Linked DNA regions of Homo sapiens. The protein of the gene in region 2 interacts with the protein of the main gene of each other region in a biochemical or structural test. Each region holds a gene or a part of one and is shown on either strand. Other genes may lie near its edges. The genes, in order: DLG1 and TMEM178A.

Region 1 (16,318 bases), on a different chromosome or scaffold from region 2:
ACATATATGTATATATATATCTCTATACTGTTGCGAAAAAACATACTTTTTTTGCAACAGTAACTGCACCAAATTACTAGGCTCAATGTTGATTTAGAAAACAAATAACTAAAAAATGCTTTTTGCTGTTTTTCCAGAGGAATCCAATTTGATCATCCATTCGGACCTTAAACCTCAGAAATTCAAATGTGTAAAAAATGTCCATCAATGTAAACAAAAATGGCAAAATGTGAATTTCTGGAGCTGGGTAACAGTTAAAAGGCAGTTCATTACACTGTGCTATGTATCCTTATGTTTTTAAAAGTCTATTAAAATGTTACATTTTTCAAAATTGTTCAGGTGCATCAAGTGGTCTTTACAAAAATCTTTCATTCTAAAACCGTAGAGAGCATCCATTTATCAATAATGTACCTGACAGGACACACTGACTTGAAAGTAGTCTTCAAATCACACCAACAATTATTCTATCAACAGATAGATGTAAGGCCATATCTGACTGGAAGTTACTGAAGAAATAAATGTAATATAATTAAGTATATGTCTTCTTATGTTAAAATGTTATATAGTTGATAACTAAAACAAAAAAAAAAAACTTCATTCTTAGAATTGGAAGAGACAAACTTTCTAGTTCGGTGGTTTGCAAACTTTTTGAGGTACCTGGACAAAAGAGCCAGACAAGTCACCTTGTTTTATACATAGGAGATTATACACAAAATATGAGATGATGCTTTTAAAAATGATTTATCTACTTAAAAAAGGCTTTAAACCCATTCTGTCATTTCAACAGCTACATTCTACAGCTAATATGGTGGCATAGAAAAGATTAAATGACTTGGGATATATCATTCAATTAGTGGCAAAAGAACTCAGGACTCTTATTTTTCCAGTTCTTTCAAACAATGCACCACTTCAAATTAAGTTACAATTAAGAATAAAACTTTCCATTTTCTTGCCTGTAAAATACGGTTACTAGACAAGATCATCTCTAAGATTATTTTCCAGGTCTAAAATTCTGACTCCATGAATGCCAAGCTCAAACAGAAATCTACATTAAGGGAATGAATGTTCTTCAACACAGCAGAACCCTTCACACGCTTTCAATGACTTCAGAGACATGCCAGTCAAATACAGAAACAAGCTCACAGTAACTCAGTCATACCTTTTAGGTCCTTAAACATCTGTGCAACATCTTTTAATAGTTAATGCTATTAAGATGTGAAACAATGTTCTCAAAAGCCACTGAAATAATCCTGAAAGTTTTTTGGTTACTAGTTATTTTAAGAAAGGACACTGGCCTATGAAAAACACACAACTCACTGAAGATGTTCAAGTTACCGAATGCCTCAGAGAATTAAGTACATCATTTTCTTAAGTTTAAAATAAATGAATTGAGAGGAGCATAAAGCCTAGCTGGCATAATAGTTACGAAGTTTTAATTCCCACCTATTAAAGCCTGAAAGAGGTTGCTCTGAAATATGTTAATAACCCGTTCTATGGAACTTCTGAGCTGTCTGTCTTCAGTTTGGCTTAGTTTTGAACGATATTCCTCCAAAAGGTGCAATGCTCTCTGGGTATCTGAGAAGAAAAAGCAGAGCCTGATTAAAACTCTCTATTTACAAAAAAAGTATCACATACTAGTGCAAATAATTCTGCATGACATCTAAATAGTTCCGCAAATCCTTCAGGTCAATTGATGTCACTATGTTCATGTACACATATTCCTTAGAATGACCAAAAAATAAAAAAAAAAATTAAAGAAATACAAGAAAAATTTAAACATATATCACATTAGAAAACGGAGGAGAGTGAGCAGTTTGGAATAAATGTGTACTGGTAGTTTGCCAAAGTAAAAGATCAAAGTATTAGCAACAGTTTCAGATTACCTGATAATGCAAAAGCAGATTATCTACAATTTGTCATCATAATCCAAATTTTTAACATTTCAAAATACAAATTCTTAGTATCCCACAGTTGCTTACAGAATAGTGCTTAGTAAGAATGATAGAGTGAAATACTAAAACACCAATTCAGGGTTATTAAGGACATCTGTTGGGGGGGGGCTAACTGCCTCTCTTAATCACTAGAGAAATGTTAAGAAAGTTTAACAAACATTTTCGTGTTTCCATCTTCTGAAATGATATGAGGCTTAGATTCCCTAAGCAATAAAGCTAGGACCGTGCTGTCTCATCAAAGTTACACAAACGATTCTAAAACGGCAATCAAAAAACTGACACACGGAAAAGCAAGTGACATCGACAACAGAGTTACGGAATAAACTCTCACCTTGCTTCCGGACCGGCATTTTTCTCCAGAATCAGGAAGAGGGCACACACCTTTAAAACACACAACGGAAAGGAAAAAGGATAGAATCATGTTAAACTAGCATTTTCCCCTATCGAAATAGAAAACCCTCGCAGCCTATTTGAAAACCCCACGTTCCAAAGTTTTACCAAGTCAAAGAAAGAGTCTCAAAACGCAGCAGTTGTCTGTCAACGTGGAAAGCTTTTCCTTGGAGTGGGTACCCCTCCAAATTAAGAACAGACAGAAGTCGGCTTCCAAACTCTCCTCGAAAGCGTCCCCTCCCCAAAGAGCCTAGACCTGAGGCCGCCTCTTCCCCCGCACAAGTATCCACACTCCCCACCTGCTACTGGGTACGGGCGGGTGAAGCGCTCCGACCCTTGGCCCCTGAGCCAGCAGCGGCCGCAGAGCGCTGAGAGGGGACCAGCGGGACTGGCCGCCCGCCCTGCTCGGGCCCCCTCCTCTCGCTTGCCTTTCTCCTTGCTCGCTGCCTCCGGGCTGCTCCAGCGGGGGCCGGACAGGGCAGCGGCCGCTCTCCGCGACGCCCTCGCGCCCCGCATGCACACCTCCGCGGGCCCCCACACCTGCGGCGCCGCCACAAAGTTCCGGTGAGCGGCGTGCGCTCGGAACTGGGGTGCGCCCCGGCCAGACTCGGAGCAGCTCCCCAGCCCGGCCCCGCTCCACGTACCCCCGCCCCGCCCGGGGCCCGCGGAGCCGAGCGGAGGGGGCGAAGGGACGGGGGAGGAGCTCCCCTGGGCCGCCGCACCCCCGCGGCCTCGTCCTCCTTCTCGGCCGCGCCGCCTCCTCGCTCGCCGCGGCCCCCCGGCCCGCTCGCCCAGTTGCTGCCGCACGCCCCACCCCCGGAACCTCGCCTCCTTCCGCGCCCCCAACCGCTCTCCCCCGAAACTTTCCGCCAAGATGGCGGCCCCCGAGCTGGCCTGCCGCGCTCCCACGTGACCGCTTTCCCGGCGCTCTCAGCCAATGGGAAGTGAGGAGGCGGCTCGCGCCGAGCCCCGGGCTCCCCGCGCTGCTACCTTCGGGTTGGAAGGGGGAGGCGGGTCGGGGGAGGGCAGGGGAACGGAAGGGGTACCCGGGGAGCATCCTAAGGGAACCTCTTCGCTTAAAAGGGCGGCCGCTGAAGTGGCTCTGAGAACAAAGGAGTTAACACTCGGACTCCACAGGTGGCCCGGGGTGGCCCTGGAGGAGCCCGCCTTTACCTTGCCCTAGCCCACCGGCGCGTCCCGCAGTTCCGAACTAAACGCGCCAGGCCGGGAAGGCTCGGGCTGTCTGAAGAGAGGCGTGACCTCGCCTACACCAGATCCAAGGCGCACATACCGAGACACCCCTCAACCTCACTCAGCAGTGCCGTTTCCAACTCCGCGGCAGAGACAGCGCCTGGCGACCCCGGGGGTAGATCCCCACCGGGGAAAAGCCGCCTTAAGGAGGAGCCAACTGCACCTCCCAGGGGGCGGGGAGGGCGGGGCCTGGGAGAGGGAGAGGGAGGAGTTCGGGGAGGGGTGCCAACTCTGCATTGCCTTCCACTCCAGGCTGATTGTTAAGTTACTCTTCGTCCCTTAGTAATAGGCTTGGGGGGAGGGGTTTCATTACAGAAGGACATATGAAATAGAGACACTGGTTAACTTGGCAAGAGTTTGAGGGTTATAGTACAAGATTTTTAAGCCTAACTGATTAATTCCGAGTATGGTATACTTAAGGGTGGGCAGAGAAGGTTTGTTCATTCATTCGCTCATTCATTCATTCATTCATTTCCCTCAAGCCTGCGTCCCCGCCCGGTCAGCATCGCAGGTGTTACCCAAACTCTGACGGTCCCTTTAAGAACTCACCCGGAGTCGCGCCCTCCGAAGCTGAGCCGCCCTCGGCCAGCGCTGCAGGTTTGTTTCGTGCGCACCTCCGGGCGGAATTACCGGCCGGCTGGGACCCCGCTCCCGGTCTGAGCCACCCAGGTTATAGAAGGGGAATCTCGGGAAGCTTTCCAAGTCACTGCCCACGTCTTCGAACTTCCTCGGGGTGACGAGGACCTCCCTATTAGGAGGTCCAGAGAGAATTTGCCCAAAGTTACCCCGAGTGAGTGACAGAACTGGAAACCCGGAGATCCTGTCTTTCAAAACCGGAAGGCTCTTCCCAGTAAACCTGACGGCCTCTGACTGAGGCCGTATCCATTGGCTACCAAAGGGAAGGCCGAGGAACCTCGTATTGTAACCTTAACAGCTACTCAGAGGTATACTGACCACTGGTTTTACTTTTGGATTGCACCTTAGAATCCTAACTTACTGTAAGGACCCACCGACTTTAGAACCTATCTAGGACAAGGAACCGAGGTCCGGAAAAAGGGAAGCAACTTGTCCAAGGACATAGACGCTAATCAGTAACAGAGCAGCCGAGAACTCAGGTCTCCTAGCTCTAGTCCAGGGCTCTTTCTCTTGTGATTTTGGACAACTTGACAGAGAGGTATGTTGGTATGTTGGCAGCAGACCTCTGTGCTTTCCCGGATCAAGCATCCTGGGATCTTGAACAACAGTTAAAGCAACATTGCATAGAGAAAATGGGATAGAAGGGTCAAACGGTGCTGAAGGCAGAGGTGTCCTAACAGCCGGGAACTTAACAGAGGGACGGAATTTATTTAGTAGTGAAAGTGGCTCATGACAGGCATCATACTCTCAAGACTTCGCTGATGGACTGTGAATGGGATGGTTGCAGTAAGAAACCATTCTAACAATGGAATCTCTTCAGAATTCAGAAGAAACAGGGAGGGAAATTTGCCCTCTCCCTTGATAACATTTATTGTTCATATATGTTCACTTGCTAGGAAACGGGGATAGAAATAAATAAGATCCGAGTCCTGCTCTCAAGGATACACAGCCTTGTAGCAAGTACACAAAGGCCAATGCACCTTTTCCCAGGGGACACTGAGGAGTCAAAAACAAAATTTGTGTGAGTTCTCAATGTCATCCTAGCCTTCCCCTAAAAGCAAAAAGGAGGAAGGGGAGGAAAGAGGACGTGTCCTTTTTTCTTGTCATTCTGTGTGACAGCCCTATTTGGTTGTCAGCGGTGTACAAAAGCAGCAGTGAACCCAGCACTTGTTCTACCCTTAGCCTAAGGTGCCGGCAGCAAGTGCCTAGCAAATGAACATATATGAACAATGAATAAAGGCTCTTTACTCTTCATTCCTCCTTTCTACCCATCTTTATTAGTTACTTATTGCTGGATAAAAAAAAAGTTCCTCAAAGCTTAAGGGTTTAAAACTTATTAGCTTAGTAAGTTAAACAGCGATAAATATTATCTCAGTTTCTGTGTGTCAGGAATTCAGGAGCGGCATAGTTGGGTGGTTTTGGCTCAGGGCATTATGATGTTGCAGTCAAGAAGCCTGCCAGGGCTGCAGTCATCTGAAGGCTTCAGGGGGACTACGGGAGGCTCTTTCAGCATGGATCATTCACATAGCTAGTAAGTTGATGCTGGCTATTGGGCGGAGGCTTCAATTTCTCACCATGAAGACCTTTCTATAGGGCTGCTTGAGTGTCTTCATGACGTAGCGGCTGACGTCCAACAGAGCAAGTGATTCAAGATGGCGAGACAGAAGAAGCCACAATGCCTTTCATCACTTAGTCTCAAAAGTGACACTCTGTCATAGTCTGTTTGGGCTGCTATAACAAAATACCTTAGACTGGGTGATTTATAAACAACAGGAATGTATTACAGCTCTAGAGACTAAGTAGTCCAAGATCAAAACACCATCAGATGTGATCTAACAGTCATGAGAATAAAAATTAAAAAAAAAAAAATGGCCAGGCGCGGTGGCTCATGCCTGTAATATCCAGCACTTTGGGAGGCCAAGGCAGGTGGATCACGAGGTCAGGAGTTCAAGACCAGCCTGGCCAAGATTGTGAAACCCCGTCTCTACTAAAAATATAAAAATTAGCCAGGCATGGTAGCAGGCACCTGTAATCAACTATTCAGGAGGCTGAGACAGAGAATTGCTTGAATCCGGGAGGCGGAGGTTGCAGTGAGCCGAGATCGCGCCACTGCACTCCAGCCTGGGCGACAGAGCAAGACTCTGTCTTAAAAAAAAAAAAAAAAAAAAAAAAAAAAAAAAAAAAAAAAACACCAAGAGATTCAGTGTCTGGTAATAGCCCCATTCCTCATGAATGGAGCCTTCTTGCTACATCTTCCCATGGTGCAAGGGACTAACAAGCTCTATCTGGCATCTTTTATAAAGGCTCTAATCCCATTTAGAAGAGCTCCACTTTCAAGACCTAATCACCTCCCAAAAGCCTCATCTCTTAATATGATCACTTTGAAGGTGAAGATTTCAACGTATTAATTTAAGAAGGACACAAACATTCAGACCATAGCATACTCCATAATATCCGATCAGTTACTTAGATCAGCCTCAAGGATATGAATACCAGAAAGTAAGACTCACTGGAGGCCATCTTCTTGGAGCTGGCTACCACATCATCACAACATACAAAGCAATGACATCTGGATTTTTCTTTTCTTTTTTTTTTTTTTTAGACCGAGTCTTGCTCTGTTGCCAGGCTGGAGTGCAGTGGTACGATCTCGGCTCACTGCAACCTCTGCCTCCCGGGTTCAAGCTATTCTCCTGCCTCAGCCTCCTGGGTTGTTGGGACTACAGGCATGTGCCACCACGCCCAGCTAATTTTTTGTATTTTAGTAGTGACGGGGTTTCACCATGTTGGCCAGGATGGTCTCGATCTCCTGACCTCGTGATCCACCCGCCTCAGCCTCCCAAAGTGCTGGGATTACAGGTGTGAGCCACTGCACCCAGCCCTGACATCTGGATTTTTCTAAGCAACTTTTATTTCCTCAAAGTTTTCCTTACTTTGTGCAGTGAGCAGCTGCCATTGAATAGGACACAATATTGGATCTAATTTTCCAACTTCCTCATTAAATATATATATATATACACACACACTATATCTATCTATCTATCTATCATCTATCTATCTATCTATCTATCTATCTATCTATCTATCTATCTATATCTGTCCTATCTGTCTGTCTATCGATAGTTAGATAGACGAATAGAAGAAGTTACTTCAACAAAATACTAGCAGGTAAAGCTGTTCACTTTCCAGCTCCAAGTTAACTTGCCTTTTGAAGAGCTTAAAAGGCTTCGGAGTCAAAGACCATGGGGAAAGGCTCAGATTTCCCATTCTTTTATTGAAATGTCAGAGAGTCAATGTCAAAGATACTGTCTCTAAGTTCCAACCCTTCCCTTCCCAACCATCCTGCCCAAGCCACCTTTGCAGCTTCACATCTCTGTCTTTGTCTTCTCCTCCATCTAGGCCCCAGCTTATAAATCTATGAAGGTGTCCAGGTCCTGCCAGACTCCGCTGCATCTTTTGCTTTCACTCCAGCAGGGTAGCAGCATGCTGCCTGTGCCAAGGCAATCACTAAAAGGAAAGGATTTAATGCTGTCAAAAAAGCTTATGCCAGCTTAGGCTGCAGGAAGAGGAACAGTGTCAAGTATGTTGAAAGTGGACATATTGGTCAGACCTCCATGAGAGCCTAGGGGGCATTGCTTAGCAGCACGCTTTTAAAGGAATCTGAACAAACCAGCATGTGGAAAGAAGAGAGTAACCACAGCAATCAGGAAACAACTGTACAATCTAGGGCCATTTCATTGGAAAAACAGAAGTCTCCAGGGAGCTGCAGTCATCAAACAGGCTTATTCTGTGTACCCAGTGGGCAAGTACAGTCAATGGATGAAAATTCAACCAATGGACAAACACAGGAAGTTTTTCCTTAACATGAGTTGTCAGAAACTGTCCAAAATTCCAAAGAGCTGCCTCAAGGTAGTGGAAATTTTTTTTTTTTTTTAATCAGGAAGGTGCTGAATGAAGCCAGCAAGGATTCTGTGTCAGAGGGTGGTAGATACCCAGGACATAAGGTTGAACCACGTGACCTCTGAGACCACAGTTCTAAGCTGTTGAAACCTCAGTCCCTGCTGAATACTGAAATGGTATTAGCACCCTTTAGTCTACATCAAGAATTCGTTCTACCCAGTTTTGGTGGTACCAAGACTGATCTCTTTCTCATAGATAATTCTTAACAGAATAAAAGCTACAGGTTGAAACCAATTCCCTTTAAAATGTGGACAGTTGACCATCTCCATGATAGGTAGTTAGGCACTGAATTAATGCTTTTTAATGGAAGAGCCACCCTAAGATTCCTGGAGTGTGGTATAATGGAGTACTAAATCAGCATAGGACTAATAACTGCCTCCCGTGTAAACTGGTCTATCCGGAGAGTGGTATAGCCTCTCATACAGTGTTCAAAGGCAGATTTAACTCACTGCAGGTCCACAGCAACCGATAAGATAAACTCGTTGGTTATGGTCTCCCACTTTGCAAAGGAGAGCACAGAGGAAGAGGAAACTGAGATAACTTGGTTTAGGACCCCACAGCTGGCTGGAGCTGGGCTGAACATTAGTTCATTGTTTCTTCGATTAATCTATGCTGCTTTTTCTCTACTTGGCTCCTTTTCTAAATTAAACAAAACAAAACAAAAAACACTGGGCACAGAGTGGTGTATATGTGTGTGAGAGAGAGACAGAGATAGAGAAAGACTAAGCGAAAGAGAAAAGAGAGAGGCTGAGTGAGATTCAGATAAAATAAGGCACAAGTCATGGGCTAGTCTGTTGTACAGTGTACTTGTCATATATTTGAATGCCTTTAACAATGGAGACAGTTTTGATGGAAATAGGGCCTTGAAGAAATGCATATCCGCACCCTGGTGGTATGTTATAACTAAACGGGTTGGTTTTTTGTTTCGGAGTTTTTTGGGTTTCTTTTTAATGCAAAGGTATATATTTAAAATACCCTGTAGCTTCCTTCTCTCCTTCATTTCATTTCCTTAAGTATGAGAGAGGTTTTCTGGATGACGGGACATCCAAACTGGAAGTGCCCTCAGATCCCATCAACTCCCATCCCCATGTTTGAGAAGCACGTAAAGTAAGCTCCAGAAGAGCTCCCAGACAACGTCGGCACACAATTATCAGAGGACTTTTCCCTGATGGCAGAAAGCTACTGACATTTCCAGAACCATCCATCTTTCTTTTAGAGAGAAGGGGCTGGGGGTAAGGAGAAATTAGTAATCTTTTCTAGAGATACGTTTCTAAGTTTAACCAAATTTGCTTTTCTGCTTTTGAAGAACTTGTGGTATTGACAGAACCGTAGGATCCCATATGGAAATCCTCAGGATTATACTAAAATCTCCTTACATGAAACAACCTCTTCACCCCACCCCCTGCCAAGAGAATGACCATTGTCTGTTCACAGAAGGCTTTGGCCAGGGCCCTTCAGTCAGATTATCCTTATGTAGGTAGAGAAGATAAACTTGGAAACTTAATTGGAATTTGAAGAAATGCTATTAGAATTTTAGGAAGTCATTTGTATTCCATTTCTGAGATATGACCTGAATAGAATTCTGGTAAGTGGAGAAGCCAGAAGATTCTTCATAATTATATGTGGACTGTGTCCAGTGACCAATCTCATTTAGGATGGAAAACTGCCACAACCTTCCAAAACAAAGACCTGTGTGCCAGTCTTTCATTTTTGGGAAGTGACACTCACTAGGGCTGTCATTTTCCTATTCCTCATGTTGTATAACCCTAAATTCCTTTATTATTTTCTTCTATTTTACACTCACAAGAACGGTAACGATAATGAATCATTTAAATCTTGCTTTCTATTTAAATTTTCTTTAGATTAAATTAATTTCTTCCCAAGACAATTTTATCAACTGAGATTAAATATTTGTGATTAAAGCATCTTCTGCCTTTTATAAATAAATTGGGCGGCAGTTGAAGAAACTTTTCCAAATATGCTTTTTAAAAATCCTGCAAAATTTTCCCAAGTTGGATATCATTTCAACTTGCAAATTACCACATGAATAAACAAAGCCAAGCTCGAAGGGAGTAGGAGACAATGAGTCAAAAATTTAAAAGGGATGGGCCTTTACCAATTACTAATGAAGATGAACAAAGCAATTTAAGAATAAGAGAGAAGTAAATATTTAATAAGAAATGCTACCATAATAATTTGGAGAAGCTTGGGTTCAAAAGAGCAGAATAAAGCTGTATCTCTATTCTTTTTTTCTCTTGGAAAAAGACTCCAAAAATATTAGAACAAAGAGAAACTTGTTCCTCCATCCTTAATAAAAAGAAGAGTGGCTAGGCGCGGTGGCTCACACCTGTAATCCCAACACTTTGGGAGCCCAAGGCAGGTGGATTGCTTGAGGTCAGGAGTTTGAGACCAGCCTTACCAACATGGTGAAACCCATCTCTATTAAAACTACAAAAATTAGCCAGGCATGGTGGTGCCCGTCTGTAATCCCAGCTACTCAGGAGGCTGAGGCAGGAGAATCGCATGAACCCGGGAGGCGGAGGTTGCAGTCAGCTGAGATTGTGCCACTGCACTCCAGCCTGGGTGACAGAGCAAGACTCCATCTCAAAAAAAAAAAAAAAAAAAAAAAAGGAATTTAGATGCCCAGGCTCCCACATATTCAGACCGGTGACCATCTTCCCTCACTCCTCCAAAAGGCAAGAATTTGATTTATTGGAGAATAAGAGAAGTTTTAGATTTGGAACTACTAGACTCAGAGGAAGATGGTGGTGCATTATAGTACAGGAAACTAAGGGAAAATCTGTGTATTGAACAGAGATAACTCCCTCACACCCACCTCCTTCTTCCTGCTAGCCATAGCTGGAGTACCCTTCAGAGAGAAAAATGGAATTGCCTCAGAAAGATCAGTAGATACTCATAGTTGGAAGGCTTACAACGAAAGCCTAAGCCATCAGAAAAATGCAAATAAAAACCACAGTGAGGTAGACTTCACACCCACAAGGATGGCTCTGATCAAAAAGACACAGCTGTTACCATCATAACAAGTGCTGCAAAGGATGTGGAGAAATCAGAACCCCCATACACTGCTGCTGGGACTGTAAAATGGTGCATCCACTTTGGAAAACAGTCTGGGAGTTTTTTGAACACTTGGACATGTAATTTCCATAGGATGTGACAATTCCACTCCTAGGTATACACCAAAGACAACTGAAAACACGTGTCTATACACAAATATTCATTACAACATTATTCGTAATAGCTAGAAAGTGGAAACAACGCAAATACCCATGAATTGGTAAATGGAAAAATAAAATTGGTACGCCCATGTAACATAATATTATTCAGCAAAATAAAGAAGTGAAGTACTGATACATGCTATGACATGAGTGAACCTTGAAAACATTATGCTGAGTAAAAGAAGCAAGTTACAAAAGACCACATACTGCAAATTCCATTTAGATGACATATCCAGAAAAGGCAAATCTGTAGAGAGAAAAAGTAGATTAGTTGTTGCCTAGGGTTGAGGAGCATGGGATGGAAGGGGTTGGAAGGTGAGGGCTAAGGAATGAGGTTTTTTTATTTTAATAAAAATGTTCTAAAATTAACAGTGGTTTTGGACTCACAGTTCTGTGAATATACTAACAGCCATTGAACTGTGCAGTTTAAATGGGTGAATTGTATGGTGTGTGAGTTATATCTCAATAAAGCTGCTTAAAAAAAATGTCAAGCTGGTCATTTTATTGCCCTTCAAGAATGCAGACCAGGCCAGGCACGGCCTGTAATCCCAGCACTTTTGGGAGGCTGAGGTGGGCGGATCACCTGAGATCAGGAGTTCGAGACCAGCCTGGCCTATATGGTGCAACCCTATCTCCACTAAAAATACAAAAATGAGCAGGGCGTGGTGGTGGGTGCCTGTAGTCCCAGCTACTCAGGAAGCTGAGGCAGGAGAATCACTTAAACCCAGGAGGCGGAGGTTGCAGTGAGCTGAGATCGAGCCACTCCACTCCAGCCTGGGCAACAGAGTGAGAATCTGTCAGAAAAAAAGAATGCAGACCAATCAATGAGCCTCTCAAATATCTCAAATATACACAGAGCCTCCAATCAGCTCAGCTTTCAACAGGAGGAGCCAACCAAGGGTCACCACACATTATGAGAAGGCTTTCAACCTGAGGCTGGACATGGCGGCTCACGCCTGTAATCCCAGCACTTTGGGAGACTGAAGTGGGTGGATCACTTGAGGTCAGGAGTTCAAGACCAGCCTGGTCAACATGATAAAACCCCATCTCTACTAAAAATACAAAAATTAGCCAGGTCTGGAGGCATGAGCCACTGCACCCAGCCTCACTAGGAAGATTTAAATGTGGTTCTGCCTATAGACAATTTTAAAATTACTTCTCAGAACCTTTCCAAATTTAATATGTATGTGAGTCCCTAAAATTCCTGGAAACAAATAGAAGATCCCCTTAGAGTGAAAAAGTCAAGTTTCTTCCTCCTCCTAATGACAAAACTCCATGTAAAATCACTATTTAGGCTAGGCACAGTGGCTCACGCCTGTAATCCCAGCACTTTGGGAGGCTGAGGCAGGTGGATCACCTGAGGTCAAGTGTTCAAGACCAGCGTGGTCAACATCGTGAAACCCTGTCTCTACTAAAAATACAAAAATGAACCGGGCATGGTGGCAGGTACCTGCAATCCCAGCTACTCAGGAGGCTGAGGCATGAGAATTGCTTGAACCCGGCAGGCAGAGGTTGCAGTGAGCTATTGCGCCACTGTACTCCAGCCTGGGCGACATAGCGAGACTCCTTCTCAAAACAAACAAACAAAAACGAATGGATTTAAACAAGTTGGCAAGTCACTTTGCGTGCCACTACATTTTGAAATGTCAAGGGGGATTGGGATGAGAAAGTAATTCAAGAAATTGCTATATATGATGAAAGACTGAATACACACCAGACCATATATGACAACAGAACTCTGTGATCCACAACCTCTGCAGCAAGCAACCCAGGAAATCAGACAACAACCACTGCAGTAATTGGCCTAAAATAATCAGAACTTGGTCAATGACTGCCAGCTTCCCTATTTTTTTTTTTTTTTTTTTGAGACGGAGTCTCACTCTGTCGCCCAGGCTGGAGTGCAGTGGCGCGATCTCGGATCACTGCAGGCTCCGCCTCCCGGGTTCACACCATTCTCCTGCCTCAGCCTCCCGAGGAGCTGGGACTACAGGCACCCGCCACCACGCCCGGCTATTTTTTTTGTATTTTTTAGTAGAGACGGGGTTTCACCATGTTAGCCAGGATGGTCTCGATCTCCTGACCTCGTGATCCGCCTGCCTCGGCCTCCCAAAGTGCTGGGATTACAGGCGTAAGCCACCACGCCCGGCCCAGCTTCACTAATTTTTACCATCTTTCAACTCAAGGCCAATCAGAGAAAGGCAAGTATTCTCCCTAAATCAATCATACAAAATGCCTTGCTTCTAGTTATCTTGCCTCCAGCTTTTCCATACCTGAGGATCTCCTTTTCTCTTCTTTTAATTATAAAGCTTTCCTACTCCCTTGCCTGCCTTTGAGCCTCTGCCAAATGCAAGTGACGGTGCTCACTCCCTCGCTATAGCAAGCTCTGTATAAATAGCCTCTGTTCTCATTCAGGTGGTCATCACTTACTTCCACAGACAGGGAAAGTTCCTAAAAACAGACAGAAAAATTGTTTAGTCTGCTACTTTAATAAAAGCCTTATTCATCAGGTCATTCAGTAAACTAATCTGTATGATGCAACTACTATGAGCCAGGAACTAAAACAAATTCTATTTCTCTAGGAAAATTTGTCTGAGAAGGAAATTGCAAAGCTGAAGCCTTGGGACTTGAAAATTCAAATCTTCCGTCTTTGTTTATGGTCTGTAGCAGGCAAACAACTTCGAACTTCTCAAGGTTGCTTGGCTAAACACGAACGAGTGGATGAAGAGAACACCTCAGCAATAAATATAATGCCTGGAAAAGAATTTTACTAAGAACAATGTTTTTTATGCCACTTTTTAATTTTTTTAAAAATTTCTCATTACCTCTGAAGATTTGTGACACTATTGTTTGAGCCATTATTTTTTAAATGATACATATAACTGCTTGTCTAGGATGGTTTCTCTTTCTTTCTCTTTCTCTCAATTATCTTCAGTTTTCTAATCTAGACCACAAAGTTCTCCATTAATAAAGTTGGCAAACAAAGTGTCTGAAAACATTTTGTTACAGGGAATGATATTCTGCTAAGTTTTACTGAAGATGGAATTTTCATTAGTACTGCTAATGAACCATTCTTATTCCTTTTGGGAACTATGATTTATTAAAAGAATTGTACGTTTTTTAAAAACACCAAAAGAATTACACTCATTCATTTTCAATATGACTAGGGTATTTGCAATAGAAAACTTAGTGAGTATTCCCTAAAGTCACGGTGGCTTTTAAACACTGCATAATTCTGGGTATTAACATCAGGAAAGCATTGCACTGTTCCTCATTAGAAGGATAATGCCATTATAATAGCTTTACTCTGAGGCATAAAGCGGTTAAATGAAGCACCAGAAAAGGAAAAGCAAAAGTTTGTTTGGTGAATCATTCTTTTCTATGGTTTGGTGACCCTAAATTGAGCCAGAAAAGAATGCAGCTAGTGGCTTAATTTGAAGAATTTCCCAAGGAAATGATGCAATACTGTACAATTCTTATTGGTCTCTAACCTCTGGGATCTCTGTTCATGAAGCTGCCTATTAACACAGCTTTGCAAGTTAATTGTGAACAAATCAGGAGAGAATAAAAACTCAAACATAAATCTCTGATCTAACCACTTCATTTAGGAAGGGATTTGGAAGATCTTCTCGGACCAGTGTTTTTGATTCTCTTCTTTGCATTGTGACCTTATACTGGAAACTCAGGTGTGACTGCTATTATTCTGGTCCCAAGTGCCAGGAAGTTCAGATCAGGTTGAGGGCAAGCTCAGGCCAGGGTGACTCTGAGGTCAGGCTATTCACATGTCTTTTCTTAGGCTAGGATCGCTTGAGGAACACAACCACGTTGCTGGGGTTAATAGATCTATTCTCCAAAGCCAAAGTATTTGGCATGGTCAGCATAATTGTACTGTGTGTTGCAATTGGGCTCTGAGCACAGAGTCTTGCTGAGTGCCTTATGAATTTGGTCATGGAGAGAAGGCTGGTGCAGGAGTGAGCAAGGGAAACTCCTATTCAGAGAAAGTTTTTACTCCAGAAATCACCATTCCTTAGGAGAAGATTGCTTTAAAAAATTTTTTTTTAAATTTTTTATTTTTTGAGTTGGAGTCTCACTCTGTCGCCCAGGCTGGAGTGCTATGGAGGGATCTTGGCTCACTGCAACCTCCGCCTCCTGGGTTCAAGCGATTCTCCTGCCTCAGCCTCTCCAGTAGCTGGGATTACAGGCACCCGCCACCACACCCGGCTAATTTTTTGCCATGTTGGCCAGGCTGGTCTCGGACTCCTGACCTCAGGAGATTTACCCGCCTCAGCCTCTCCAGTAGCTGGGATTACAGGCACCCGCCACCACACCCGGCTAATTTTTTGCCATGTTGGCCAGGCTGGTCTCGGACTCCTGACCTCAGGAGATTCACCCGCCTCAGCCTCCCAAAGTGCTGGGATTACAGGTGTGAGCCATCGTGCCCGGCACTTTAAAATCCTTGACTCCAGTCTTCTTTAATGTAAAAGATAGCTTTCCAGGGACGTGATTAGATCAGAGATTTTATTGCACGAATAACAAACTCTTTTAGCCAGTCCAGAGCGAGCATTAGCAGCAGCATTACTGCATCAGTCCCTCTGCCCCAAGGAAATCCCTCCTGTCCATATAGGATGCTATTGAGGATAATGCTGATGGATAATGCCCTTGGTGGCTGTAGAGGGAGCCTGGGTCTCCAGAGGCTCTAGAGATTGGTCAATGCACCAAGCTTAGTTATCAATGAAAAGATTGCTTATCATGCCATTGCGCTCCAGCCTGGGCAACAAGAGAGAAACACTTCAAAAAAAAAAAATTGCTCGCTTTCAAGTAGGAAATGTGAAAGCCTTAAGAACAAGAAAGGCTCAATTCTTCAATCAGTTCAGTTCAGTTCAAGCAATATTTAATACC
Region 2 (16,289 bases):
GATTTTAATATATTGAAATGATCTTGCATTCCTGAGATAAATCTCACTGGGTCATGGTGTACAACTCTTTTCAGATGTTGCTGAATTCAGTTTGCTAATATTTTGCTGGGGAATTTTGCATATCTATACATAAGGAATAGTATGTAATTTCCTTTTCTTGTGGTGTCTTTGGTTTTTCATATCAGGGTAATAATGGCCTCATAGAAAGAAGTAGGAAGTTTCCTTCATGCTCTATTTTTTTTTTTTGTTTTGAAGAGTCTATGAAGGTTGTTAATTCTTCCTTAAACATTTGGTTAAATTTACCAGTGAAGCCATCTGGTCATGGAATTTTCTTTGTGGCAAGTTTTTACTAAGTTAATTACTAAGTCAATTTCTTTACTTGTTATAGATGCGTTCAGATTTTCTATTTTTTCTTGAGTCAGTCTTGGAGTTTTATATTTCTAGGTATATGCCATTTTATCTGTTTTATCTAATTTGTTGGCATGTAATTTTTCACTGTGTTCTCTTAAGCTTCTCTATATTTCTCTAAGATTGTTAGTAATAGCCTCTGTTTCATTCCTGATTTTTTTTTTTTTTTTTGAGACAGAATCTTGCTGCCTTGCCCATGCTGGAGTGCAGTGGCACCATCTTGGCTTACTGCAACCTCTGCCTCCCAGGTTCCAACAATCTTTGTGCCTCAGCCTCCTGAGTAGCTGGGATTACAGACATGTGCCACCATGCCTGGCTAATTTTTTGTACTTTCAGTAGAGATGGGGTTTTCCTCTGTTGGCCAGGCTGGTCTTGAACTCCTGGCCTCAAGTGATCCGTCTACTTCAGCCTCCCAAAGTGCTGGGATTATGGGCATAACCAAATTTTAGTTTTGTTTACTTTATCAATTTTTAATTCTTTATTTTATGTATTTCCACCCTAGCTTTGTAATCTCTTTCCTTAGTGTGCTCTTCTTTTTCTAGTTTTTTAGGGTGGAGAGTTAGAATACTGATTTGAGATCTTTCTGGTTTTGTTTTTGTTTTGAGACAGAGTCTCACTCTGTCACCCAGGCTGGAGTGCAGTGGTGCAATCTCAGCTCACTGCAGCCTACATCTCCTGGGCTTAAGCAATCTTCCCACCTCAGCCTCCTGAGTAGCTAGGACTACAGGTGCGTGCCATCATGCCTGGCTAATTTTGTTTATTTTTTTAGAGACAGGGTCTCACTATGTTGCCCAGGCTGGTCCTCAACTCCTGGGTTCAAGTGACCCTCCCACCTCAGCTTCTCAAGGGTTGGGATTACAGGCATGAGCTACTGTGCCAGGCGAGATCTTTTTTTAATGTAGGCATTTACAGCTATAAATTTCCCTCAAAATTATTGCTTTAGCTGCATCACATAAATTTTGGTATGTTGTAATTTTGTTTTTATTAATTTCAAAATGTTTTCTAATTTACTCTAGTGATTTCTTTGCCTTATCGGTTATTTAGGAGTATATTACTTAATTTCCACAAATTTGTGAATTTCCTAAATTTTATTTTCTTATTTATTTCTAATTTCATTGCATTGTGGTGAGAGAACTTACTTTGTATGACTTTAATGTTTTTAAATTTATTGAGATTTATTTTATTGCTTACATATGGTCTATCCTAGAGAATATACTATGTGCACTTGAGAAGAATGTGTATTTTGCTGTTGTTGGATGGAGTGTTCATAGATGTCTCTTGTATCTTGTTGGTTTATAATGTTGTTCAAGTCTTCTGTTTTTTGTTGATCTTCTGTCCAGTTGTTTTACTATTATTGATCTTCTGCCTAGTTGTTTTACTATTATTGAAATAGAAGTATTGATGTCTCCAACTATTATTTTGAATTGTCTATTTCTCCCTTCAATTCTGTCAGTTTTTGGTATTGCATGTATTTTGGGGCTCTATTGGTCAGTATATGTTTATGACTGCTGTATCTTCTTGATGGATAGACCCATTTATCATTATAAAATATCTTTTTTTCTCTCTGGTAACAATTTTTGTCTTAAATTCTGTTTTGTTTGATATTAGTATAGCCATTTCATCTTTCAGTTATGGTTTTCATGGTATATCTTTTTCCATCCTTTAAAATTTCAACCTATTTGTGTCTGAATTTAAACTGTGTCTCATGTAGACATCATGTAGTTGGATTATGTTGTTTTATCTACAATGCCAATCTCTGCCTTTTTATTGGAGTATATATTTATATTTAATATAATTTTTGGTAGGGTAGGATTTATAGATGCCATTTTTCTATTTGCTTTCTATATGCCATATGCATTTTTGTTCCTCTATTTCTTCATTAATGTTTTCTTTTGTGTTAAATACATATTTTCTAATATGGCTTTTTAATTCTTTTTGTTGTTATTGTTTCATTTACTACATATTTTTTTTTTGTTATTTTCTTAGTGGTTGCCCTGTGGATTACAAGTAACATCTTAACAATCTAGTTTGGATTAATACCAATTGAATTCAATAGTATATAAAAACCTTGCTTCTATATTGTTTCATCCCCACTCTCCTCCTCCATACTATTATTGTCATACAAATTACATGTTTATACACTGTATGCTGATCAACAGAGATTTATAATTGTTGCTTTATGACTTTTAAATCAGATAGGAGAAAAAAAGAGTTGCAAACAAAAATACATTTATACTGTCTTTTACAGTGACCTATGTTGTAACCTTTACATGTGCTTTTTATTTTTTAAATATGGGTTCAGTTATTATCCTTCATTTCACCCTGAAGGACTCCCTTTAGTATTTATTTTTAGGCCAGGTCTGCTAGTGATAGATTCTCTCAGTTTTTGTTTAGCTGGGAATATTTTATTTTTTTCCTAATTTCTGAAGGATAACTTTGATGCATATAGGATTCTTGGTTGACAGTCTTCTTATTTCTGTGTTTTGAATGTGTCATCCTATTCCGTTCTGGCCTCCATGATTTCTGATGAGAAATCAGCTGGTAATCTTTCAAAGTTTTTTTTGTGTATATGATAATTTGCTTTTTTCTTGCTGCTTTCAGGATTCTCTGTCTTTGGCTTTCAACAGTTTGATTATGATATATCTGGGTGTGGGTCTCTGAGTTTATCTTATTTGTAGTTCCTTGAACTTCTTAGGAATGCAAGTTCATATTTTTAATCAAATTTGGGAAGTTTTGGCAGTTATTTCTTCAAATACTCTTTTTTGATCCTCCTTCTCTCCTCCTTTCTGCAGCTCTCATTATGCTTTTGATGGTGCCTCACAGGTCTCTGAGGCCCTGACCATTTTTTAAATCATCCTTTGTTCTTTATTTTTCTCAGACTGGATGATTTCAATGGACCTATCTTCAAGTTTGCTGCTTTTTTCTACCTCCTCAAAACTTCTTTTAAGCCTCTTTGGTGCATTTTTCTTTTCAGTTATTATACTTTTCAACTCCAGAATTTCTATTTTTTTCTTTACAAGAATATTTCTGTCATGTTGCTAATATTCTCTATTTAGTGAAATATCACTCTCATCCTTTCCTTTAGTTATTTGGATAGGTTTTCTTTACTTCTTTGAACATATTTAAAATAGCTGATTTAAAATCTTTGTAAGGTAAGTTCAATATTTGGGATCCCTCAGTGACAGCTTCTATTGACTGCTTTTTTTTTTCTTTTACTTTGAATGTCTCGTACTTTTTTGGTTGAAAACTGGGCATTTGAAATAACATACTATGGCAGCTCTGAAATTAGATTCTTGTCCCTTTCTAGGGTTGATTATTGTTTTTATTGTTGTTGCTGTTGTTCCTTTAGTGACTTTCCTGAACGAATCCTATGAAGTCTATATTCTTTGTCATAGGAGGCCCCTTAAGTCTCTGCTTGATTAGCTTAGTGGTAAACTAATTATTGTACAGAAATGTTCTTAGCCTGCTAAAACCAATAAACCTTCCAGTCTTTGCCAGTGGGGTTTGTTGTGTGCATGTTGGGTATGCCTTCAACTCTGCCTTAGCTTTCACTTCCTGCTTACAGAGCCTCAGGGTCAGTCTGATGAGTACCAAATGGAATGATAGTTTTGAAGAATACAAATGTAAGCTACTACTACATTTGTGGTCCTTTATCTGTCATTGTTCTCATACTATATTGTTTTCCCTTTGGAAGCACAGGCATTTCCTGACTTATAAACAGCTAACTTATATGTAAACAGCTACCTTTAATGCCTTAGACCTCACAACCACTGCCATGGGGCTCATGTTGAAAAAACAAATTAAAAAAAAAAAAAGAACTTCGAATTTTGAGAAAATGTGTGGTTTCATCAAAAAATAAAAAATAAAAAAAAAAGCTTCCAAAAATCAGAGATAGTTTGGGTAGTTTTTCTCAAAGGGAGATTCAGAGACTACCTGCATCAGAATTACTTGGGATGCTTGTTAAAATTCAGCTTCCTGGCTCCATCTCAAAACTTTTGATTCAGTATATCTGGGGTAGAGTTCAGGAGTTTACATTTTTAACGAGCCACCTAGGTGATTCTGATGTACACTAATATCTGAGAAACTCCTTAGGGAAGATGATCCTGTAGGTACATTCACAGGAGGGACTGGGGCTCATGATGCAAATTATGCTCAAATATTAATCTCTTCCCTTCACTATATAATCTTTTTAAAATTTCACCTTTATATGCACTCAGATTCCACCAATTAGAGATTTATTTGCATCTATGAAGATTTTTTTAAATGGCTGGCAGTGTTAAAGGACTAACATTCGCTCATGCCTTTAAAAAAATTAGTTTAATCAGATTGCATTTATCCAAACAACTGGCCAAGATTATTTAAAATGAGAGGAGAACATTTTATAAGTTTTTTTAAATTTTAAGACAGAGTAGATACTTTTCATGAAATTCAGAAGCCTCTAGGAGAAGAGAATAATGGACCCATGTTAATTTATGCAGTAAAACATGGGTGTGTGAGGTTGGTGTGAGGAGGTGGAGAGTGTACTAGATGAATCAATGTGTACACCTGCCCATATCAAAATATTGTGCCTAGGGCTGGCCATACAACCAGATAGGGGAGGAAAATTATTTTCTTTCTTGTTCCTACTTCTAGTATTACCCTTTTTTCTCGAGATCTAGAATTCAGGTCAGTATAACTGTATTAAGGAATGATATCAGCTGCACTAGAGTTAAATAGGTTTTCGAGGTTTGTCTGGAGATATAATCACCACCTAAACCATGTGGAAGGTTATCTTTATGGAAAAATGTCTTCTGGTTTCCAAATAACACACTTCCTAATGAACTTCATGAGGCTACCCTTGAGAGTTTGAGACTGGATCAGATCCAGATGTGTGATTTATCTGTGCTAATTTAAAATTCTAAGCTGATTTTCCCAACCATCTGTGTACTTTTAGGCCATTGCTCCTTAAGGAGTTTTGTGTTTAGGTAAAACAAGCTCCGTATGGGAAAACAATTAGGGGAGTATAGATCCTTATACAATTTAATACATTAAAAAATGAAACCTGATTTTAAACATTATTTTATGTTTTAGGTTTTTATTGCTCTGAATCAAGAGATTCTTATCCCATCTCCCATTCAACCCAGGTTAGGTTACGGTATTCTGCCTCAGGTCTCAGAATTCTGTTACAAATAAGCAGACTCGTAAATCGCGTTTCTTATTTCCTTCAAGGTATTGCGCAGCGATGCACGGCCATCAAGTACCACTTTTCTCAGCCCATCCGCTTGCGAAACATTCCTTTTAATTTAACCAAGACCATACAGCAAGATGAGTGGCACCTGCTTCGTAAGTATTTCCAGGAGAGGTTCAGAGAGGAAATGGTGTCATTCTGAACAAAATTCCCACCACCCCTCTCACATCTGGACAGAAGGATGTTGTTCTTATCCTCTGTGAGCCTCTGGGCCCAATCAGATGTGGTCAGAGACTCAGAGGATCATTTCCCTATGCTGTGGACACAGTTTGCTTAAAAATAAAATGTGTGGAAACCTGGTATAAGGTCTTGTGAGATAGTCTGCCCTGGTGGCATCTGTACACAGCTGCCTACTGAATCTTTTGTTTGCCGAGTTGTTGGGTGTAAGGACCTGCTGTACCCCTTGTCTTGTAAACCAAGGAGATTATACCTTAGGGGCTCTTATTTTTGTTTTGTATATACAATATTTATTTTAGCTACTGTGTTCATCTCCGACCTTTGTATTTCTGCTAAAATACCTTTATGAGTGTATGTCATAATTTTCTCAGAGGGTGTCTACATCTCAATGAAAGGAACTATTCTTTTTCACTGTCAGGAAAATGTGAAACTCTAGAAAGCATCATGCAGTGTGAAACTAAAGAGGGCTGATATTTACCTAAAAACTGTTGATTTAAGCTGCCTGATGATAGATAGCTCCCCGAAACGAAAAACTACTGTGAATTTTTTTGGTCTTTGCCCCCATCAGAGGTTGACATTGTCATTTTCCAATGAAATAAGTAACAAGGACTTCAGGATCTTGTTTGGTGGCCAAAGCCACTGTAGAAAACTAATCAGAGTCTCTCATTCTGTAAGTAAATCTCTCTGCGGATTAAAAGGCTCTGTTCTGAATCTCAAACACATAAATGGAAGCTCTTATGATATTGCCAGAGCAGTGGTCTAATATACATATTATGGCAGGCAACTTTAAGACTTAATCATCTTTCCAGAGAGCCATGTAGTTACTGGCTCAGGTCAGGGGAGAAAAGATCATCATAGGAGCCTGAAAAAGAACCTTAGCTCTTTAATAGTTTGTACCTTGTGATTGCCCAGCAAGGCAGTATTTGAAGATTCTTCTTTTAATCCTTTTTGGAGTTCTCATGGAAAGATGCTTTTAGCAGTCTCATGCATGTCTATTTCTAAGAAAGTCACACTTGGTGATCTGTAGCACATTTACTATATAAGCTTAACATGACTGGTACTAATGCAAATCCCATGTGGATTATATCTGAACCTTGTGCCTTTTCAGAGTCACAGAAAATAGACTATCACTCAAACCATAGGAAATTTGGGAGGCTGTAAGATAATGGTGACTGAACCATACTACATTTCCCCTGCTCAGATGTGGCTGTCTCAAAAACTACTTATACCCTTAACATTAAACTCAGCGTCTTTAAATTATCACTGCTCCTGGCCCCTTATTCATTGGTGTCCACATTTCTTCTTCTAGGCAGAAATACTCTCTTTTAATTTGGATGCTCTGAGTGGGAAATGAGAAATCCCTCTTTAAAAAAGGGATGGTCTCTCTGTGGCTAAGGTGCTAAGAGCAAGACTGGAAGCTACTGTAATCCATCCTCCATGAAGCCGCCCCTAAGCTGCCCAGGAGCCACACAAACACACAATAAAGTGATGGCTGCATGGGCACTTTCACTTTAGCAGAGCAGCCCACACTTCGAACAGTGTGATCTGCACCTTGTCTTGGCCCCATGTGTACACAGGTGTGGATGATCCACGTGCATTTGCCCAGACCTGTTACCTGGCCTTGGGGGCAGCAGATGTATGCTTGGGATGTGTTGTTTTAAGAAGGGTGATTGAAATTTAGCGAACAATTTTTAAAGTTAGTTTTGTTAAAAAAAATCCTTTGAGATGGAGCTGCAAGGTAAATAGAAAAGATTCAAAAGCATTTTTTAAAAAAAGAAGGAAGAAAATAGAAAAAGTAAAATAGCTGGAAGGTAGGCAAGGTGAGTGCTGGTTTAGCAGTTGGAGGCAACTTGTGTCCAGGTACACGTAGTCAGCCTACCTCTTGGTTTTGTCAGGCATGTGGGGAAAGAGCTGGATTTCTGGCTCAGTGATCACAGTTGTGTTTTTGCAATAGACCAAACTAGACAGTTGGGCCACTGTATAGTGGAGATTATGTAGTGGAGACTCATCCTATTGGACTAGTACTTCCTTCACCTGGGTAAATGGATGCCCAGGTTGTGGGATCTATGCTTTAGGGGAGAAGGCATTTCTGAGCAGATGTTTCAGAGGAAAGGGTGTTTATGAGCACATGTATCCTGTGTGCACTTTACACCACTGTTCCACTCACCACAATTGCCTTCGCTTTCTCAAATTGTTTTTGAAAATAGGCAGGAGTAGATGTAAATGAAGAAGTAAATAATTGGCATCTGTGGTGATCAGATAAAACCCTATTTCACAATAGCTTTTTTAGGCTCTTTCTCCAAAGCTAGATTAAGTACAGCCACTACCAGGGTAGTAACCTACATTTCTTTTTTTTCCCCTTTTAAAATTTCAATAGTTTTTGGGGTACAGGTGGTTTTTGGTTAACCTACATTTCTATTGTTCTGTTAAGGCTAACAGATATTTCTCAGACCCACCTCACTCTTTGTTTAAGTCATTTGACATCTGTTACTCAGGTCTATCCTGGGCTTGTCCTCTAGTCTATTCTCCACTTAGTGTGGACTTCTCCACGGACTCAGAGACGGTATAGTCTGACCCTCCATTGGTTACACCCCATCAGTCCTCTTATGGAATACCTGGGAAGAGTATTCCCTATGCCTCCTTGTCCTGTGGGCTCTAAGCCTGTCCATGTAACTTACTAATTTTCACAATGTATACAAAGCCCTAATTCTCTAATTCTTAATGACTTTCCTGAATTCTGATTGTGAATGTCTGTGTCTGTTTTGAGATTAGATTTAAGAAGAATCACTGCTGGCTTCCTCGGCATGGCCGTAGCCGTCCTTCTCTGCGGCTGCATTGTGGCCACAGTCAGTTTCTTCTGGGAGGAGAGCTTGACCCAGCACGTGGCTGGACTCCTGTTCCTCATGACAGGTAGGCTGCATGCCTCAGGCCGTCTGTCCCAGCCAAGGTGAAGGCTGCTCTGCATGCGGCTAGCTAGTGTCGCTTTGTTATCTCCCTGTTAATTTTGTTTTCACTGTTAGAAAAGCAACCAGAAGGTCATTTTGGCTTTGCTGGAAAATACAGAATTTAAGGAAAACAACAGTGTGAGAAATGCATCCTCTATATCCCCATTGTGGCCTGTTAGTAGGTTGGATGGAAGTGTCTTGGGTTTAATCTCTATATGAGCCCAGTCTGTTTTTTTGCTGTACTTTCTTTTTTCTTTTTTGTTTTTTTGAGATGGAGTCTCACTCTGTCACCCAGGCTGGAGTGTAGTGGTGCGATCTTGCCCCACTGCAACCTCTGTCTCCTGGGTTCAAGTGATTCTCCTGCCTCAGCCTCCTGAGTAGCTGGGACTACAGGCATGTGCCACCACACCTGGCTAATTTTTGTATTTTTAGTAGGGTTTCACCATGTTGGCCAGGCTGGTCTCGAACTCCTGACCTCAGGTGATCTGCCTGCCTCAGCCTCCCAAAGTGCTGGGATTACAGGCAAGAGCCACCACACCCCACCTTCTGTTCCTTCTTTCATACTGTGCCCCAAACCCTGGCCTGGACTCTTGGCAAACATGGACCATTGCTTATGAGGTGCCCTCAAAGACAGAGGGGGATAGATCAGCACAACCCATGCCCCGCTGGATGTCAATTCAAAGCATGCTTTAGTGATGGTGTCATTTTTACATACACAACACTCATTCATTTTAGTCCACAGATATCTTTTGAGGACTTACTATGTACGAGGCACTGCTGTGAGTGCTAAAGACACACAATGAATAAGGCAGGCAAAATTCTTGTTCATTTTTATTGTGGAGAGACATAAACAATGATTTGTGGTAGTGATAAAAGCTGTGAAGAAAAGAAACAGGGTGAAACAGGGACTCAGGGAAGATCTTGCTGAGGTGGCGATTTCGCAGCTAATTCGTGAGAAGCAGCCGGTGGTAGGAAGAGCGTAGCAGACTGGGGAAACCGCCAGTGCCAAACCTGAGAGAAGCGGCCAGTGGGGCTGGAGGGAGTGAGGGACAGGATAGTATCACATGAGGTGGGGGAAGTGGGCAGTGGCCAAAGCGTCAGGGTTTTGTTGGTCATGGTGGAGAGCTTGGATTTGAAGCTAAGGGTGACAAACGCCACTAGAAGGTTTGAAGCAAAGGAGTGACTTGATTTTTTTTTTTTTTTTTTTTTTTTTTTGAGACGGAGTTTCGCTCTGTCGCCCAGGCTGGAGTGCAGTGGCGCGATCTCGACTCACTGCAAGCTCCGCCTCCCGGGTTCACGCCATTCTCCTGCCTCAGCCTCCCGTGTAGCTGGGACTACAGGCGCGCGCCACCATGCCCGGCTAATTTTTGTATTTTTAGTAGAGACGGGGTTTCACCGTGTTAGCCAGGATGGTCTCGATCTCCTGACCTCGTGATCCGCCCGCCTCGGCCTCCCAAAGTGCTGGGATTACAGGCGTGAGCCACCGCGCCCGGCCGATTTTTAAAGAAGGGATTGGAAAGATGGGGGTGTGGAGACAGGGCTAGGATTTTTTTGACTAACAGCTAAAGGGTAGTTTTGTCTAAAAATGTGCCAGGTGCTGAGTTGATGGCTAACACTGACCGAAGGTAGCTTCAGGGAAGAAATCTTTCCTTTCTTCTCCTCCTTCACAGAAAACTCGTGTATTAATGATTAGTGAATGCCACATTAACTGGGCATTAACAGTTTCACACAGTATACTCAGCAACAGAACTAATATTCCCCGAGATAGATAGCCATTTTAAATAGGCTTATTTCCACTTGCTTGGAATTCTGTTATTCAAGTGACTATGCCTAGATTTTCTTGCACTTCTCACTGTAATGGGTCACTTAATTAAGCCTGCGTTAACAGGAGGCAGCCACACCCCACCGGGGCTGACACTGTTTGCTGACTGTCTGTCTCTGAGCGTTGACGGGTAGGGGGTACTTTGCCCTCTGGCATGTTCAACCACCCTGCAGCCTTAAGGAACCCACATCACAGGCAGGGATCCTTCCTTCTAACTCCCACTCACCCCTATCCCACTCCACGAAATGGTGCTGCAATTGGCAGTGATCTGGAATGTGGGGCATCATCACCAGCATCCTGGAACATTCAGAAGTCACATGGATGCTGCCTAGTTCTCAGCAGAAAACCAATTTAGGTTTTCTAGATTTTGGTGAATACACAGTGGCCACCAGGACTGTAGCACAGGGAGGCTAAAATGTTAGTTTCTGAGGTTTTAGAGGAGGATTTGGACCCTCAAGACCAGCCACTGGGTTCCTGCCCAAGGGATGCATTTAAAATCCAAATTATAGACTAAAGCAGACGCGGGCAGCAAAGAACCAGAGAGGACTGCACTGCACAGAGGATTCCTTTACACCTCTGCTGGGGCTTAATGGTTATTTAAAAATCTCCCCCGTTTTCTTCTCTCCCTTTATTTAAGCCCCCATTTCTCTGACTCTTGTCTCCATAAATATCAAAGAGGTACAGATGTGTTGCCTCCCAACACATGGGAAAGGCCCCATAACACTCCCCTTGTCAGGAAAATGGGGGATGCTCTGGAGTGGACAAAAGCCTCAGTAGGAGGAGTTTTTAAAGGATACTTTAAATATATGTACTGCCTGAATAGTTTAGTATGCTCTTAGCAAATGAAACAATTGTTAGAACTAAAATAAATTACAAGACCATGAAAGCCTACTGAGTGCTCCTTGGGAGACTGAGGGGCCAGTCTGGTTTTAAATGAAAGGAAGTTGAAGGTTCAATGGCAGGTGGGCACAGAGGAGAGGCAGTAGTTTCCTGGGCCAGCTCCACCTCTCCCTGTTCTCAGCCCTTATTTTGGATCCATGTGTGGATTGTACCTCTGGACCAGAGGAGCTCAGAGGTCCTCAGGATCGAGCACGGGAAGCTCCTGTGTAATTGTTAGGCAACATCAAAATATGCAAAGCAATAGCCACAACAGAAACCACCACCACCACCAACAAAAACCCAAACAATAAACTTGAAGTTTGATGACCAGTTCTGAAGGACTAACAGATACAACCTAACATTGTTAACATTGTTCTGTTGTTTTGTTTTGGTTGCCCAAACAACGTTATTGAAATTAAGGGGGAATCCACTTACAGACCTCATCACCTGAAAACAAAACAACCTTTTTTCAATATTTCCTTTATTTTGGACCAAATCTTGCCATGTATTTGCTTCACTGTAAAAAAACAAGAAAGGAAAAGGAAGGAGAAGAAAGGGGAGGGGATGGAAGAGGGGAGAGGAGGAGCATGGAGTGGATATGCTATGCTGGATTCACCTGTTCTGTTGCTGTGGGATTTAGGGGCGTTTGTTTTGCTTTTGTTACTACAAATAATGCCTTGAAATTTCCTTTGCAAACACTGAGACAACCATGTCAATCTATTGCTTGAGATAAATTAGCTGTAGAACGTTCACATGCAGTAGGAGATGAGAGCAAAAAAAGGGTTAAAAGAATCGATTTTAATTAAGCAGAATGTCTTTAGCCACTCAAGTCAGCATCCTTCCCACAGATTTTTGATGCTAAACTTAGCCCCTTCTAATGCTCTGCCATCTTCATTCTGTGCCTGAACTTATTAGCTAAACCTTCAAATGAAGAACATCAACCATGTGACAGGTTGGCTGGTTAAAATGGAAACTCTGAAACGATATTTCTCCTTCTGCCTTATTGATTGCACACAGACAGGTCTTGATTACCACATGTTACACAGCAGCCCTGCTGACTGTCGATGCACATCTGGAGCCAGGTCTCACCCCTCTTCCTCTTCCCTAGGGCCATGCAAGGGCCCTCCCAGAGAGCCAGGGGCAGCCTGCACATCTCCCACCGGCCTTGAATTTAGACTTTGGATGTCACACCCTCTGAGGTTACACACACACAGGCACAGAAGCATACACAGGTGACTGAGGGAATAAGACTCTTATCTTCCAGCTTTAAGCTTCTGCCCATTACTAGACTATACTGCTTTCAGTGTACTGTGAATGAATATTTCCACCTACATTATTAAGTGATGCATTCTATTAGATGGGTATAATATATACTTATTATAATTTAAGTTATAAATCTTTTAAAAGGTTATTCAGTGCAAACATTTTAAAACACTTTTTAAGGTCTCTGTTGTAGGATTTTTAGTATTTTTTAATTCACCAGGAGTCTTAAAAATTGGATAAAGCTTGGGCCTCCCTTGGTGGGGGTCTCACTGCTCACGAAATTCATTCACCTTCACAGGCTGTGCCTTGAGTGGCCAACTGGAAGATCACACACAGCATGAGACAGTCCCTTCCTGACAGCAGAGACAGAGAAGACAGAGTCCAGGCAGCCCTAGCAGAGCTCCAGGGACAGTTAACACCCACCCACACTGGTTATTCATTCTTTTGTTTTAATGAATCCAAATTTTTTTTAAAAAAAGACTCAACCATGGTAGGTGTATTGAATTATCTAGATTATCCATTGATTATGACATGAAACTACAGGTCCATGATACTTTTTCTATAACCTTGGGGGCCAGGTGTGTTTTGTAATTCAGGATCTAAAACTTTTTATTTTAGAAGAGTAACACGGTGCATATATCCTGTGTTATTTAACACCCTCTGCAAGGTCTGGGGTGGCATCTTGAAATCAAATACATTAATATTCCTGTAGCTAAACATACGAATATTCACACTAAATGGGATCAATAAGTACTAGAATAGCCTGTGTCAGACCAGGCCAGGATTTGCCACTACAGAGATTGCTTCAATCTTTCAGAAAATGATTGGATGCTTTTGGGATTTAGGAATTGCATTTTGTGTGTGTGTGTGTGTGTGTGTGTGTGTGTGTGTGTAAGAGTTTCTTTCTCTCTATTAGTTCTGCCAGTCAGTTAGGACAATATAGGAATGGCTTTTTGAGTAATCTGTGTGCAAACTAGCATGAGGCATTTGAAGGAAGACCAAAGAGATCAGAACGATGGGCAGGCCATCTTTTGAAGGAGCAGGGGAAAAAAATCAATGTTTATGCCTTTGGGTGTTGTAGTTACATTATTTATCAAGCAGGCTAAACAGGGTGAAGCAACTTCCACTCCTTTCAGTCTTTTAAGCACATTAAAAAACGGTGGTCAAAAGAGTGGGCCCCGTTACCCTAATTACATCTTACCAGCCGGCATCATGAAGATTTTAGGGTAGGAAATTAGGTTGATGATTGCAAGGATGATAGCATAAATTTACTTCTGTCCTGATGTGAAAATATCCCTTCTAGCCCTATAATTCTGTGATATCGTGGTATCTTCTAATTAGGAATATTGGCAGAAAACCTTTTAATATTTTATAAGAAAAGTAGTTGCATGCAGGGCTTGTCAGGAAACCAGTAATTTATTCACTTTTTTGAAGATGCTGCCAGCAGTAGTAAGGACCGAGCTCAGGACTCAGGAACCTCTCTCTCTCTCTCTCTCTCTGGGGGACACTAGCTGGCTGAAGAGTATCAGCTAGGCAGGGGAGAAGTGGAAAGGAAGGGAAAGCCTCAGAGAAGAATGGAGGAGAGGCCACCTTTCTCCCCATGGATCTTCAGGAAGGACCATTAGATTTTGAACTTTCTGAATGCAGAGGTGATACCTTATTAATCCTTCCATACTCCTTTCGCATACCTTGCATTAATTAGATTGCTGCCAATGAAAATGCAGCATTATCAGAAATAACTTGCTACATAGGTAATCCCTACTTGGGGTAATTTGTGATGAACCGACTCTTAAGTTGGTAGAACTCAATGTATTGCAGAATTCAGTTTCGTTCAGGTTTTCTTCACTCCATGTGCTCAGCTCTGTTGGACTCCATGCAGAACTTACGGGAAGTCTAAGAGATCCCTATGACCTTTTCCTGAGATGCACGGAGGAGAGTAGAGTGGAGAGAATGCTTGAAGTTCCTGACCACATCAATGTTGAACTGAGTCCAATTGTGACCAAGAAGAGCTCATGAAACTAAACTATCTCTAATATACCAGAACTAGGCTTGGGACGTGGTAGATACTTGATAAATAATTGCTGAATAACTTATTGAGTAACACTTAGAATAGCACAATCTTGCTAAAACCTATAAAAAAGCTAAAAATATATTTCATGCATGAGTACAAACACACACATACTCACATGTGTGTGGAATGTTATGGGCTGAGTTGTGTCCCCTCAAATACACTTGTTGATGTCTTTGTCCCCTACCTCAGAACGTGACAGTATTTGGAAATAGGGTCTTTAAGTTAAAATGAGGTGATATGGATGGGCCCTAACTAAATATGACTGGTGTCCTTATAAGGAGATTTGGTCATGGTGACAGAGGAGAGACTATGTGAAGACACAGGGAGAAGATGGCCATTGACAAGCCAAGGAGAGAGTCCTCAGTTTAAAAAGCCAACCCCGCTGACACCTTGATCTTAGACTGTAGCCTCTACAATTGTGAGAAAACAAATTTCTGTTGTTTAAGCCACCCAGTCCGTGGTACTTTGTTTGGCAGCTCTGGCAAACTCACACATATGAGTACTATAAGACATGTATGTGGAACCTGAAATAGAATTCCACACTCTCAACATTGACCTAAAACTATTAATCCAGCTATAGTAAGAATGCTTTCATCATTTCAAACAACTCTTTTTCTTGATGCCTTTGAATTTAGGATTTTTTGTTTTGTTTTTTAAAATATCTTGAATGGGTTAGGCTTCTTTTACAGAAGCTTGTTGGAAAAGTTGGAAACAATGCTTCTCTCCTCTTAGTACATTTCCTTGTAATCATCACACATTCCTGCCCATCTCACAAATCATTGTGGTGGCAGCTATGCATGTGCAAACATTCTTAGAAATGCGAGGGTCTGAAAATGAAGAGCTCCTAGATATGGTTTTCTTGTCATTCTTTCCTGCCCTGCTTTCCTCTTACTTACTAAGAACAACTTCGAGAGCACTTTGAAAGGAGAAGAGATGTTACAGAAGGGCAAGCTATAGGGGCATTTGTGGGAAGGGGGATGGAGAGAGGGGATGGATTTTTGGGCTGATAGGCCTCCTCTCCACCACGCTCAGCTGAATGAGTAAAGGCAACAAGAAATAAAACAAGTCTGCATCAAAGTTTGATGCGTGCCCTGTTCCAAAAAAAAAACTTAACTGGCATAGAGATAACACTTAAATTAATACAAATAAATAAAGTAAGACAAAGGGACAATCAGGTTTCTGAGGCAAGATGGATCCAAGAGTGAGATTAGAAGCCAAAAGCATGCCATGAAATCCCATACTTTTGCTCATGGTGGGCTACAGATTTAGCTTTAGGGAGCTTCAGTGCTCTGGCAACTTGGATAAAGAAAAATTCTGTTAATGACATCATTCACAGTGTCCATGAGGTAAGCACAAATCAATTCCCCAGGAAAAGCACAAACATCCATGACACTGAGAGCAGAGAGAAATCATTCTGGTTAAATCCCCAGATTAGATTGTTTCTTGTAATTCTTTTCTATTCAGTATGAACCGGTGGTTTAATGATAGAATTCATGT

Evidence for each region.
Region 1: the proteins of TMEM178A (region 2) and DLG1 interact in a test that uses a peptide from one of them, tested with the Homo sapiens proteins (2 studies listed by IntAct, with this or other methods).

What each region holds. Positions count from the first base shown.
Region 1 is NC_000003.12:197,294,903-197,311,220, forward strand, and holds the start of DLG1 (disks large homolog 1), read right to left. Parts: upstream 3,711-16,318; 5' UTR 3,634-3,710; exon of another isoform or gene 3,345-3,633; intron 3,234-3,344; exon of another isoform or gene 2,642-3,233; intron 2,580-2,641; exon of another isoform or gene 2,451-2,579; intron 2,334-2,450; 5' UTR 2,303-2,333; coding exon 2,284-2,302; intron 1,576-2,283; coding exon 1,444-1,575; intron 1-1,443. UniProt on the Homo sapiens protein: Essential multidomain scaffolding protein required for normal development. Recruits channels, receptors and signaling molecules to discrete plasma membrane domains in polarized cells.
Region 2 is NC_000002.12:39,698,465-39,714,753, forward strand, and holds part of TMEM178A (transmembrane protein 178A isoform 1 precursor), read left to right. Parts: intron 1-5,616; coding exon 5,617-5,730; intron 5,731-8,584; coding exon 8,585-8,722; intron 8,723-13,019; coding exon of another isoform or gene 13,020-13,078; exon of another isoform or gene 13,079-16,289. UniProt on the Homo sapiens protein: Acts as a negative regulator of osteoclast differentiation in basal and inflammatory conditions by regulating TNFSF11-induced Ca (2+) fluxes, thereby controlling the induction of NFATC1.